Linked DNA regions of Homo sapiens: all the other regions are reported to be linked to region 2. The links are microRNA targets in miRTarBase. Many come from high-throughput screens and were not tested one by one. Region 2 holds a microRNA gene; each other region holds the end of a gene's coding sequence.
What was found. The annotated mature microRNA hsa-miR-4423-5p reads AGUUGCCUUUUUGUUCCCAUGC and lies in region 2 at 1,883-1,904, shown strand. An mRNA with a match to its seed (bases 2 to 7 or 8) in the 3' UTR can be bound and repressed. Matches are read on the target gene's strand: a 7mer-m8 pairs with bases 2 to 8, a 7mer-A1 pairs with bases 2 to 7 and ends in A, and an 8mer does both.

Region 1: miRTarBase lists UBE2G2 as a target of hsa-miR-4423-5p. Seed matches in the 3' UTR shown: 7mer-A1 at 1,600-1,606 and 7mer-A1 at 563-569.
Region 3: the mRNA of MOGAT3 is a reported target of hsa-miR-4423-5p. Seed matches in the 3' UTR shown: 7mer-A1 at 561-567, 7mer-A1 at 738-744 and 7mer-A1 at 1,065-1,071.
Region 4: miRTarBase lists DCTN6 as a target of hsa-miR-4423-5p. The part of its 3' UTR that is shown has no 7-base or 8-base seed match.

The regions. Positions count from the first base shown.
Region 1 is chr21:44,768,854-44,771,949 of GRCh38, forward strand. It overlaps UBE2G2 (ubiquitin conjugating enzyme E2 G2), which reads right to left. Exons shown (of 6, transcript NM_003343.6): 6 at 1-2,636. The coding sequence ends at 2,524. Among named protein-coding and RNA genes, the nearest start is that of UBE2G2, 31 kb to the right of the region's middle. RefSeq lists an enhancer at 172-672.
Region 2 is chr1:85,131,924-85,135,005 of GRCh38, forward strand. It overlaps MIR4423 (microRNA 4423), which reads left to right and starts at 1,871; the gene lies at 1,871-1,950. DNAI3 (dynein axonemal intermediate chain 3) reads left to right here. Exons shown (of 23, transcript NM_145172.5): 23 at 932-1,215. The coding sequence ends at 1,075.
Region 3 is chr7:101,193,225-101,196,320 of GRCh38, reverse strand. It overlaps MOGAT3 (monoacylglycerol O-acyltransferase 3), which reads left to right. Exons shown (of 7, transcript NM_178176.4): 6 at 1-134; 7 at 221-1,314. The coding sequence ends at 375. Among named protein-coding and RNA genes, the nearest start is that of MOGAT3, 6.3 kb to the left of the region's middle. RefSeq lists an enhancer at 150-650.
Region 4 is chr8:30,182,689-30,185,784 of GRCh38, forward strand. It overlaps DCTN6 (dynactin subunit 6), which reads left to right. Exons shown (of 7, transcript NM_006571.4): 7 at 387-951. The coding sequence ends at 485. Among named protein-coding and RNA genes, the nearest start is that of DCTN6-DT, 28 kb to the left of the region's middle.

The sequences.
Region 1 (3,096 bases), not on the chromosome of region 2:
TGAGAATTCCAGAGGAAGACCACAGAATGACAGAAGGGAGATCAGAAACAGAAGAAAACATGCCAGAGCTAACCCAAGTCTGCAGAAAAGCCCCCACCGTGAGGAATCCCAGCTGGGATGATCTGGTGTGCTCCCTGGGGGCAGTGGCCACAGGCTCCTCTGACAATACGACAAAGGGACACACACTGCAGGGCAGGGAAAACACAGAACTTTATTTCAACAGTCATTAGGTTCCACCACACAACAGGGACACCATGGGATTGTTTTTTCATTTAATAAATACAAATGAATAAAAATACTTTATTTTGTCAAGAGACTGCCTCTCCTCCCTCTCCCGATCTCACAGAAGCCTCCAGGCAATTGTGTGCCCCTCCAGGGCCTGCACCCACAGACCCCGTCTACTTGCACAAATGACTCTTCTTTACAGAGAGGGCTCCATCTCATTTGCCTGCAAATACAACATAGGTATAATACCGCTCCTTTCCCCCATCTCCTTCCAAATACGAGTTCTTGCCCTGCGTTCCATTTTTTTTTTTTTTTTTTTTGAGACAGAGTCTCACTCTGTTGCCCAGGCTGGAGTGCAGTGGCGTGATCTCAGCTCACTGCAAGCTCCGCCTCCTGGGTTCACGCCATTCTCCTGCCTCAGTCTTCAGAGTAGCTGGGACTACAGGCGCCCGCCACCACGCCCGGCTAATTTTTTGTATTTTTAGTGGAGACAGGGTTTCACTGTTAGCCAGGATGGTCGCGATCTCCTGACCTCATGATCCGCCCGCCTCAGTCTCCCAAAGTGCTGGGATTGCAGGCGTGAGCCACAGCACCCAGCCTCCAAATTTTAAATGAGCCCCTTGTGAGAAGGAAAAGAATCTGCTGTCCACAGAAGCCAGGCGTGGAGCTACTTCAACCAGAAACTGTCACCCATGACACTCTGTGTGGGTTCAGTCACACAGACCACGATCCATTATGGAAGGGAGGGAGAAAAGGATCACATCAAATCTACTGTATGCCTCATAGACCATCCCTTATTTCAAAAATAGAAATTCCTATTTAAATGCCGCCCGTGTGCGACAGGCCTGATATTTGCTTCTGCATGTGGCAGATCTGTTATTGCTTACACTGTGGCCTCCTGGCCTGTGCTGCTCAGCTGGCCCTGTTAGAGAACATGGGAACCACATCAAAATCCTAAGTCACAAAACAAGGGCTCTGTCCCCAGCCTGGGCCCAGGGGCCCACATGCCCACCTCCACAGCCCAGTCAAGTGTGGGGATAAGGCACTCCTCTGTGCTCTGAGCTAAGATATGGTAGAGTCCCTTCTGAATTTTGAGTTGCAAAGAATGATTTTGTGCTAATAAATTCCCAGTGCATCCAAAATGTACAAAAACCCTAGAATTTCCAGTTTTTAGATTGAAAAAAAAAAATTTTTTCTGTAGATCCAGAAGAAACTTTCATTGAAACTTTAAAGACCTCACCTGCACCTGCTCTAGTAATGCACTAGTTACTAATATACAAACGTAAATCTTTGATGAGTATGGTCGGGAAAAAACTGTCTGTCCTTGTGATCAGCAATAAATTTCTTTTTTCTTTTTGAGACTGAGTCTCGCTCTGTTGCCCAGGCTGGAGTGCAGTGGCGGGACTTCAGCTCACTGCTACCTCTGCCTCCCGGGTTCAAGCGATTCTCCTGCCTCAGCCTCCTGAGTAGCTGAGACTACAGGCGTGCACCACCACGCCCAGCTAATTTTTTGTAATTTTAGCAGACATGGGGTTTCACTGTATTAGCCAGGATGGTCTCAATTTCCTGACCTTGTGATCTACCTGCCTTGGCCTCCCAAAGAGCTGGGATTACAGGCACGAACCACCGCACCTGGCCAATCAGCAATAAATTTCTTTTCTATTTACCCCATTTCTTATTAATTCACACTTCAAAAAAGCATTTCCTGGAAGTATTTCTAAGTGTGATGGTTTGTAATATATAACAAATGAAAAGATGTAATTAGATTATAAGAAAAGCATCTGCCTGTAAAATATGAAGGAAGAAAGGAAGTAATGGACTCCTCATGGGGCCCACAGGGAACCAGGAAGGACCCAGAAAGGGTGCCGGGCCCTTCCCCTGTGCTGCAGCTACAGGGCCCCATTTCTTCAGAAGGAGCGTTCTGGGTATTCCATCGTCCCCTGGAAGTCTGGCAGGTACAACCCCCTCAACACTCCAGGGAGGGAGGGAATCCACAGGAAGCCATGAACTGCTGGTTTCAGCGGGGAGAGGTAGTGCTGACAGCTCTGATAATCTACCTGAAGCCCTTTGTGAGGAATACTGTAAAACTGCAGTAAGCTGTCAATATTCGACATTAAGTCATCATTTCAGAAGAGAAGCCTGTTTGAAGTAGGAAAGGTTTGAAAAAAAAAAAAGATGCCATGGTTCTTGCAAGTCTGCCTTGTTTGGTACCAGCACAGAGCATCACTGTCACTAAGTGTGCCGGGGGAGAATGCTGAGCTGCTTGGCGGTGTGTGCGCGCCTGTGCGAGGCCAGGTCTCACAGTCCCAGAGACTTCTGGACGATCTGCTTGGCAATCTTATAGAACTGCTCCCGGTCATCGCGCCACATTTTGGACGCATCCACGTTAGCTCCACTTTCGTCATTGGGCTCTGAAAGAAAAGGGAACACCCTCCATGTAAAAGGGAGTCTTATACGTAAGCAGCCTGGCAAGGTCTCCCATTTATTTAAAACACTGGCGGGGGCTTTCAAGAGCTGTGTCCCAGAAACAAAGAACCTGAGAACTGCATGGGGTCGGCCCCACCTCTAGAGTGCTGGCCACGCAGGTCTCAACGAAAGCCACTCTCATGACTCCTGCGTTCTGAGTGTCTGAAGACACCAGGACAAGTTGTCATCTGTCTTGCTGTGGAACATGCGACAACCACCTAAGCACAGGCCCACACGGCCTCCCACAGCAGCCTCCTGGGCCACTGCACTTCTGGCACCCGGACAAGCTACACGGGGACCACCTGCTGCTTATTTCACCTTTCTCAAGACACTCTGCAGTGTGGCTTCTCTCTCACAGAGCGCCCTCTCAGCAAAACTGCCCCTCACAGCTCCTACCAAGACAAT
Region 2 (3,082 bases):
AACGTTCCCAACTTCTTGTAACTTTATTTCCATTTGATATGGTGCCCTCTTTTAAGTAAAGCCACCACTTCTCAAATTTTCTCTGCAACTATGAATAGATTGTGGGTATGTGAATGAATTTGAAAGGGTTCCTCTGTTACATTGAGAACATAAAAAAAGTCACTAAGGAAAAACAACTAATGTTAGTCAGAAATGTCTCCTTCTAAGCAACGGCTGATAAAGGGGGAAATGGCAACAGTAACAACCTCAGAAGATTGCAATGGAGCTTAAATGAGTTAAAATATTTACAGCACTTAGCCAATAACTGGCACATAGAAAGTGTTCACATGTTCGTCCAGCAAGGCTGGCCTGTGTGAGTGCTCACCAGGTGCCAGGTTGAGGCTGTACAGTTCAACACAGATTTCAGGAAAATCATGCACCTGTCTCTTTGCAAACATAAAATCTGGAAACAGCTCACTCCTCAATGGACAATAATAATCACTGCTCTAGTTGCATATGAAATGGGAATTTTCCTAACCAGAATTTCAGCTGGAGACTCAGCCTGGGACAGTAGTCATTGCCGTGTGATCCACAAGCTATGCCATCCATATGGACTCAGAAGAGGGGGATTTCAAAAGAATTCTGCAACCTCTAGGCTATTAGTCACCCTCCAGTCTACATAAGGGAAACAAGAGTTATAGGGAAGAAGGCCGGAAAAAGGGACTTTTTTTTGAGAGACAGTGGTTGGGGACCATGTTTCCCCCCACTCCCTCCTTTCCCAGCACATCTGACTGCCTCCTGCCCACCTGCCCTCCTGCCTTCCTGCCCTCCATCCAGCCCTTTCCAGAAAACAGCAGCCAGGTCAACTATTCACAAACAGCCCCTTCTCATCCTTTGGTATTTTTAGATATCAGTGTTTTATAGGGATGTCTTGTTTTTCTTCCCCCCCCAGAAAACATATCAGAAGTCAAAAGAACAAATGCAGGCTGAATTAAAAATGGACTATGAGAGTTATCTGGAACTGGAAAAGACTGTTCTTATCAACCTTGGCCTAATCAAAGTCACAGAGAAGGGGTCATACATGGAGGTGATGTAAAAAAGCTTCCTGAAGGGGTGTTTTGGGGACTTCTTCCCTCTATTTATTTTTATGTCAGGTGAACTGGCATGCTGAACATATATATATATAGGCTCATTTATAGACTTTTATTTCCCTGCTATTAAAACTTTTGAATTTTAGCAATGAGATCTATTTCAGTTTTTGTACCATGTATGTACCAAATTTTGTACTGAATATGAAAGTGTTCTTTTTTAATGAATGTTTTCAATAACAAAATTTGTATTTTCCTATAATAATAGAGAACTTTGGATGTCCCTTCCATCCCAATCCTTGCTGTCCACACAGAGGCCCTCATTCCAGGCAGAAGGGGAAATCAAACTGCTCCTACTTATCAGCTTGCTTTTGGCCACCTTTCCAAAAAAAGTGCTTCCCCTTGGCCACTGTACAAACTGTAGGGCCATGTGCTAAACAAAATATTAGCAAATCAAATCCAGAAATATATATATATATATATTTTAAAGAGGTTAACACATGAAGACAAAGTTGGGTTTATCCAAGGAAGATAAGGTTAATTTAAGAGTAGAAAATAAATCAGTGATTAATCAAAAGAGAGAAATTATGATGCCAAGTCGATGCAGAAAAACATTTCATAAAAGTTGACATCAATTCATGATAATAATGATACATTCTTGGCATCTACAGAAAGAATTCCTGTAATGTGATGAAGGGCGTGTAAAACAATACTACACCAAACATGGTACTTCATGGTGACAAGCAGAAAGCTTTCCCCTGAGATGTGGAACAAGACACAGCTCACACCATCAGGTGCCTGACATCATGTACTGCAGTTGCCTTTTTGTTCCCATGCTGTTTAAGCCTAGCATAGGCACCAAAAAGCAACAACAGTATGTGAAACTGAGACACAAAAGAGCTTGGAGCCAGATTGTGAAGGCTCCTGTTTACCAAGCTAAGGAGCTGGATTAGAATTTATGGGGAATGAATGGAAGGTCTAAACAGGAAGTTGACCCAATCAGCTTTATTTTTAGGAAACAAGGAATGAACTAGAGCAGGGGAGAGTCTCATGGCAAGAAATCCTATTAGGAGGCAGGAGGAATTGTTCAGGGCAAAGGATTAGGATGCCCTGTACTAAAGCTTAATGTGAAGATAGAAATCAAAGGCTGGTTGGATGGGGAAGGGAAGACAAAGGATAATACCAAGGTTTATAAGTTAGATTGCTAGAGGAAAGAAAACTTTGTCGGATAGATTTTAGCTCTTAACCACCTGTGTGCCCTTGAACAGATGACCCAGCTCTGTGAAACAGATTCCCCTTCCATCAAGTCAGGTTGAGAGAACTTAACTTGCAGCATTTATGTAAGGGGCAAATGAGCCCCTGCAGATAAGGGGCCTGTGCCTGGCACATATTATTGTCATCATGATTGAAATATCCCAGGGCTCATCCTTACACTTGAACTTCTTTTATTCTTTCTTTTTTCTGCACTCACTTTCTAGGTGCATGCATCCACTCTCAAGGCTTTAGATACTACCTCTGTCCCTGACCTGGCCTTCTCTCTAAAATCAAGAGATGTGTATCTATTTGACCTTTTGTATCTCCACTTGGATGTTTAATAGGCATCTCAAACTTAAACATGTCCAAAATTGAGTGCTTGATGTTTCCCTTCAAAAACCATTCCTCCAGCAGTCCTCCCAGCCATGATGCTGCTTGGGGCAAAAGCCTTAAGGTCATCCTTCATCTCCTTTCTTTCACAATCCACATCCAATCTGTCAGCAAGTCCTGTTGACTACACGTTCAGTATGCATGTGAAACCTGATCGCTTCTCTTCTCCCTCACTGCTACCACCATGGTCCAAGCTGCATCATCATCAGCTTGGATTTTGCAGCAGCCTCCTGTTCTCCCTGTTTCTATGTTGTCATTTTCAGTCACTTTCAGCCACAGCCAGATGGTAGTTTTAAATGGATGCTGTCAGATGCTGTCATCCTTCTGCCCAGAATCCTTCCTCAACCTCATAGTATGATCACTCAGAGTAT
Region 3 (3,096 bases), not on the chromosome of region 2:
CTCCTGGCAGCATTGGTGCCAGCTCACCTTCAAGAAGCTCATGGGCTTCTCTCCTTGCATCTTCTGGGGTCGCGGTCTCTTCTCAGCCACCTCCTGGGGCCTGCTGCCCTTTGCTGTGCCCATCACCACTGTGGGTGAGTGCCCACCTCCGGGGGGACGGCCACCAGCAGCTGCGTGGGCATCAGGGATCCCTCGCCCACCTGTCTCCCTCTCCCTGCAGTGGGCCGCCCCATCCCCGTCCCCCAGCGCCTCCACCCCACCGAGGAGGAAGTCAATCACTATCACGCCCTCTACATGACGGCCCTGGAGCAGCTCTTCGAGGAGCACAAGGAAAGCTGTGGGGTCCCCGCTTCCACCTGCCTCACCTTCATCTAGGCCTGGCCGCGGCCTTTCGCTGAGCCCCTGAGCCCAAGGCACTGAGACCTCCACCCACTGTGGACTCCATGCCTCCAATAAAAGGTAGTTCTGGGCCCAGCGCAGTGCCTCATGCCTGTAATCCCAGCACTTTGGGAGGCCAAGGTGGGAGGATCGTTTGAGCCCAGGAGTTGAAGACCAGCCTGGGCAACACAGTGAGACTTCATTTCTACAAAAATTAAAAAATAATGTTGTTAATTAGCCGGGCATGGTGGCATGTGCCTGTAATCCCAGCTATTTGGGAGGCTGAGGCAGGAGACTTGCTTAAACCCAGGAGGCGGAGGTTGCAGTGAGCTGAGATCACACCACAGTACTCCAGCCTGGGCAACACAGCGAGACTCAATCTCAAAAAAAAAAAAAAAAAAAAAAAAAAGACTGTTAAAGCTGTAGTAGGCTGGGCGTGGTGGCTCATGCCCATAATCCCAACACTTTGGGAAGCCGAGGCAGGTGGATCAACTGAGGTCAGGAGTTCAAGACCAGCCTGGCCAAAATGGCAAAACCCCCTCTCTACTAAAACTACAAAAATTAGCCGGGCATGGTGGCTCATGCCTATAATCCCAGCTACTCCGGAGGCTGAGGCAGGAGAATCGCTTGAACCCAGGAGGCAGAGGTTGCAGTGAGCCGAGATCACACCACTGCACTCCAGTCTGGGCAACAGAGCGAGATTCCATCTCAAAAAAAAAAAAATGTTGTTAAAGCTATAATCGTTCTGGAAGTGAACATGGCCAGGCATGACCTGCCCCCATCCTGATGTGCTACAAAGCTGCTGCCTTAGATTGGGTATCAGGACCCTGAACTGTCCTCCCAGTGAGAGTTCAGTCTGTGGCATGACCTTGGACAAGCCTCTTCCTTTTGCCTGTTTACTTCTTTGTCTGTAAATAAAGGCATCTGCTTAGCAAAGAGCTGTTGGGCATTGGGATGGAGTTAGGAGGGAGGATGCGTGGAGAGGCAGGCTTTGAAGAGTGAGCAGGATTTAGATGGAGGTGAAGTTAGGGTAGATGGCGGAATTCCAAGAGCTAAAGGTAAGAGCAGTCAAGGGCACTTAACAGGACGGGGAAATGGTACCATCCCCAGTGAAGGAAAAATAGAGTTAAGAACACAGCTGAGGCTGGGCGCGGTGGCTCACGCCTGTAATCCCAGCACTTTGGGAGGCTGAGGCGGGCGGATCACGAGGTCAGGAGATCGAGACCATCCTGGCTAACAAGGTGAAACCCCGTCTCTACTAAAAATACAAAAACTTAACCAGGCATGGTGGCGGGCGCCTGTAGTCCCAGCTACTGAGAGGTTGAGGCAGGAGAATGGCGTGAACCCGTGAGGCGGAGCTTGCAGTGAACCGAGATTGTGCCACTGCACTCCAACATGGGAGACAGAGCCAGACTCCGTCTCAAAAAAAAAAAAAAAAAAAAAAGCTTATGTCCTATGGCCGGCTGCTGTGGCTCACACCTATAATCCCAGCACTTTGGGAGGCTGAGGCAGGTGGATCACGAGGTCAAGAGATCAAGACCATCATGGCCAACATGGTGAAACCCCGTCTCTACTAAAAATACAAAAATTAGCTGGGCGTGGTGGTGCTCTCCTGTAGACCCAGCTACTCAGGAGGCTGAGGCAGGAGAATTGCTTGAACACGGGAGGCGGAGGTTGTGTTGAGCCAAGATCGCACCATTGCACTCCAGCCTGGGCAACAAGAGTGAAACTCCGGCTAAAAAGAAAAAAAAATGAAAAAAATGAAAAAAAAAATTCTAGAAATTAGCCAGGTGTGGTGGCTTATGATTGTCATCCCAGCTACTTGGGAGGTAGAGGTGGGAGACTCTCTTAAGCCTAGGAGGTCAAGGGTGCAGTGAGCCGAGATCGTGCCACGGCACTCCAGCCTGGGTAACGAAGCGAGACCCGTCTCAAACAGACAAACAAAAAGAGCCCTGGGGTGGTCACAGCATCCTCTGACTTTGGTCAATCCTATTTGCTGGCTGGCTTTGTGTATCCAGGACTTCATCAAGAATAACTCATTGAAATGTAATTGGAATGCCCTATATTTGCTTCTACCGTCCTATAAAATTTATTTGTGGGAAGAATTTTCCCTTTATTGCATGAAAATATGGGCAGTCCCATGACTTCCCTGGGTCATTCTCAGATAATAAGTTCTACATTCATTTTAAGTTGGAGCATAGAAATGTTTCGTTCAGGCCAGGCATGGTGGCTCATGCCTGTAAGCCCAGCACTTTAGGAGGCCGAGGCAGGAGGATCACCTAAGACCAGGAGTTCAAGACCAGCCTGGCCAACATAGTGAACCCCGTCTCTACCAAAAATACAAAAATTAGCTGGGCGTAGTGGCAGGTGTCTGTAATCCCAACTACTCCAGAGATTGAGGCAGGAGAATCGCTTGAACCCGGAGGCGGAGGTTGCAGTGAGCCGAGATTGCACCGCTGCACTCCAGCCTGGGCGACAGAGTAAGACTGTGTCAAAAAATAAAAACAAATAAAAATAAAAATAAATCAGCTCTGGGTTTGAGCAACCTCGGCCTGGATACCCTTGGAGTTCAGGCAGGCCTCGACGTGGCCACTTGTCCTTCCCCCTTTCCTGCCGTGGGAGCATCCAACCAGTCACAATCCGGCCAATAGATTTCTCCAGTGGGCACATTTTCCAGACACTGGGGATGGGCGGGGTATGGTAGTATGCATCTGTCAT
Region 4 (3,096 bases), not on the chromosome of region 2:
GAACTTTTTTTTTTTTTTCTTTGAGACAGGGTCTGGCTCTGTCACCCAGGCTGGAGTGCAGTGGTGTAATCATGGCTCACTGCAGCCTCAACCTCCTGGGCTCAAACAATCCACCTGCACCCCTGCCGCCCTGCTTCCACCTCAGCCTCCTGAGTAGCTATGACTACAGGGGTGTGCCACCACACACAGCTAATTTTTAAATTTTTTTAGTGACAAGATCTCCCTATGTTGCTCAGGCTGTTCTGGAACTCCTGAGCTCAAATCATCCTCCTGTCTGGGCCTCCCAAAGTGCTGAGATTACAGGCATGACCCACCACGCCTGGTTGCTGTGTGGTACTCTTGACTTTGCTTTCTGCCAATCGGCCTTAATTACCTTATCTTTTTAGCCCCAGACACTACAGCTGGATTTCTTGATGAAAATCTTGCCAAATTACCACCACCTAAAGAAGACTATGAAAGGAAGCTCAACTCCAGTAAAGAACTAAGAACAGTGTATAACATGAAGATAACATTTTGTCTTTGACCACTGTCTTTTGAATGGGCCCACAGTGTTTATGTACTCTTAACAACTCACAGAATAATACATGTTCACTTTATTTTGTAAAATTGGGTTGAGAGGAAACTAATGGAGTTTCATTGTAACTGTCCTTTGTAATTTATATAAATGTATTATTTTCCTATATCCTTGGTTCTTTTCTGATAATTTACAGATTTAGCTTTTCTTTTGTTATATAAACTGCTAGCCACAAATTTTAGTTATGTAAAAGGCTACCCTTGACAAGAAAAGACATACTGTCATGTATTTATATTCTAGCATAGACTAAACTGAATAAAAATGCTGATAACAGGACCTTTAGTAAGCATACTTTAATCAGTTTTTCTCCTTGAATTAATCTTTTCTCTTAATTTTTATTATGTACTAGTTGTATTAAAGCTAATGTGTTTACTTTTTCCTCTTGTGGATTTGTAGCTGTTTAAAATTTCAGGTGAATTTCAGTAGCTATTGAATTAATTTAGACTTCACTTTGTTTTTAAGAAAAGTACAATTTTTTCTTTTTGGTAAAACAAAAGTAATCAGGGAAAGATGTTTTCAGTAGAATACAAATTAGTGGCATTCTTGGGTTTCTGAGGACAATGAAACTAAAAGAAATTTTGAAATTATACAAATTTATGAAATTATTAATATTTTAGCATAGTGCTAATCACTAATCATTGAGCTTTATTATTCTGTTGTCTATGTAGTGAGCAAAATGTTGAGAATTTTATAATTCCAAATTTTTAAAATAATTCAAGTGCATAAATTTACTGGAACATACTTCTCAACTTTTGAATTAGTAGATATTGACTAATACTAAGATACTAAAATACTAAGATATTCTCTCAAAATTTAATTTTTATTTATTTATTTTAGAGACAAGGATCTCACTCTATTACCTAGGCTGGAGTGCAGTGGCACAGTCTGCTCACATGGATCACTTGACCTCCTCAAACTCAAGTGATCCTCCCGCCTCAGCCTCTTGAGTAGTTGGGACTATAGGCATAAGCCACCATGCCTAGCTTTTTTATTTTTTTTAACTTTTTGTGGAGACAGGATCTCGCTGTGTTGCCCAGGCTGGTCTCAAACTCCTGACTCAAAATTTAATTTTTAATTGTGAATAGAAAAAAATATATTTTTGAATTTCTGAAACTGACAGTGCAAATTAGCGTAATCATTCGAAATTGGAATGATTTTGGTAAGAATACTCATGACTAAACTTGGAAAACTATACTGTAGCAGATGAAACATTGAGCTTTTGAAAAGGAGAACATAAATACCCTATTTCTGTTAACTGCTATTTATTCATTTTTCAACCCCCTGGTGATCAGTTCAGAATGTTGTTGATCATGGAAATTTTCTAGATAAAAGAAATGAGAAATTACAAGACAGTCTTTGAAATTCTTTACTGGTTCTAATGTATTCTCTTTGGACAGGCTCTGATATGCTAAGTAAATGGCCTCTCCAAACTACACAGGTACTATGTGGGGCAGCAGTGAGATACCTTCTAAGGACTTGATAAGAAGAAACCACCAGAGAGTCTACACATAGTGAGGAGAGTCTCAATGCTTCCCAGGTACACTGTAGGTTATTACATGATATTAACTCATTTGAGAAAAGAAAACCGAAATTATCAACTCACCAAAATGGGGTTTGAAGAAACAAAATATGACAGTGTGTATACAGTGTTATCCGTGAAAAGGAAGTCCTGCATCCAAGAGATGTGAGTAATTCAGTGACCAAAAGTGTTCTCTACTTCAGTTAGGACTAGTTTATCAAGACCCAAGGTATGTGGCTTAGGGAGAACATACCTTGAGACTTGCCACTTCTTTTGGCACTAATTACAAGCCTAACTGAACCATCTTCTGATTGTTGATATGGCCTTTTAAGCTATTGTTGTTCAGGAAAAGGGAGAATTCTGCATGAGGGCACCAACATTTCATTCTGCACATAGTAAATTTAGAGAAATTCTCTGGTTTATATGTCAGTCTCATGTGAATTTTGTGTGTGTGGTTCTGCCCCCAAGTTTGTCAGTTTAGCCTATGAGTTTCTAAATATTCTGATGAAACATAGTTTCTGATTCTTCAGGATAGAGAACCAAAGCCCGGACAGATTATTGCAAACTTCACTCTTTGGGGCTTCTGCATAGCCAGGCTGTCAGCCTTCTTCTAGTGGCACTCTATCTCACTTGAGACTACACTCAAACTGCATCCCAAATATTCTAGACAAATAAGCTAAGTGGTAAGGAGAACCCAGACATCCATGTGACATGAGGTAGTAACTGGGCAGGGAAAAGAGAGAAACCATTTTATCAAATCATCTTATTGCAATCTGGCACTAGCTCTTCGGGCAAGATGATGGATCTTCACCAGTTGAACAGTGTAAGGTCTAGAAACAGTGATGAAACTTCACTTCATCCATAAGCACACACTGTAGTAGTTATGTATGCTGTGTAACAAATTACCCCCAAAACTAAAACAACACACATCTTATTAGCTCACTCAGTTTCTGAGAATCAAGAATCTGTGTGTGGCTTAGCTGATGCTGGGGCTGCAGTATTC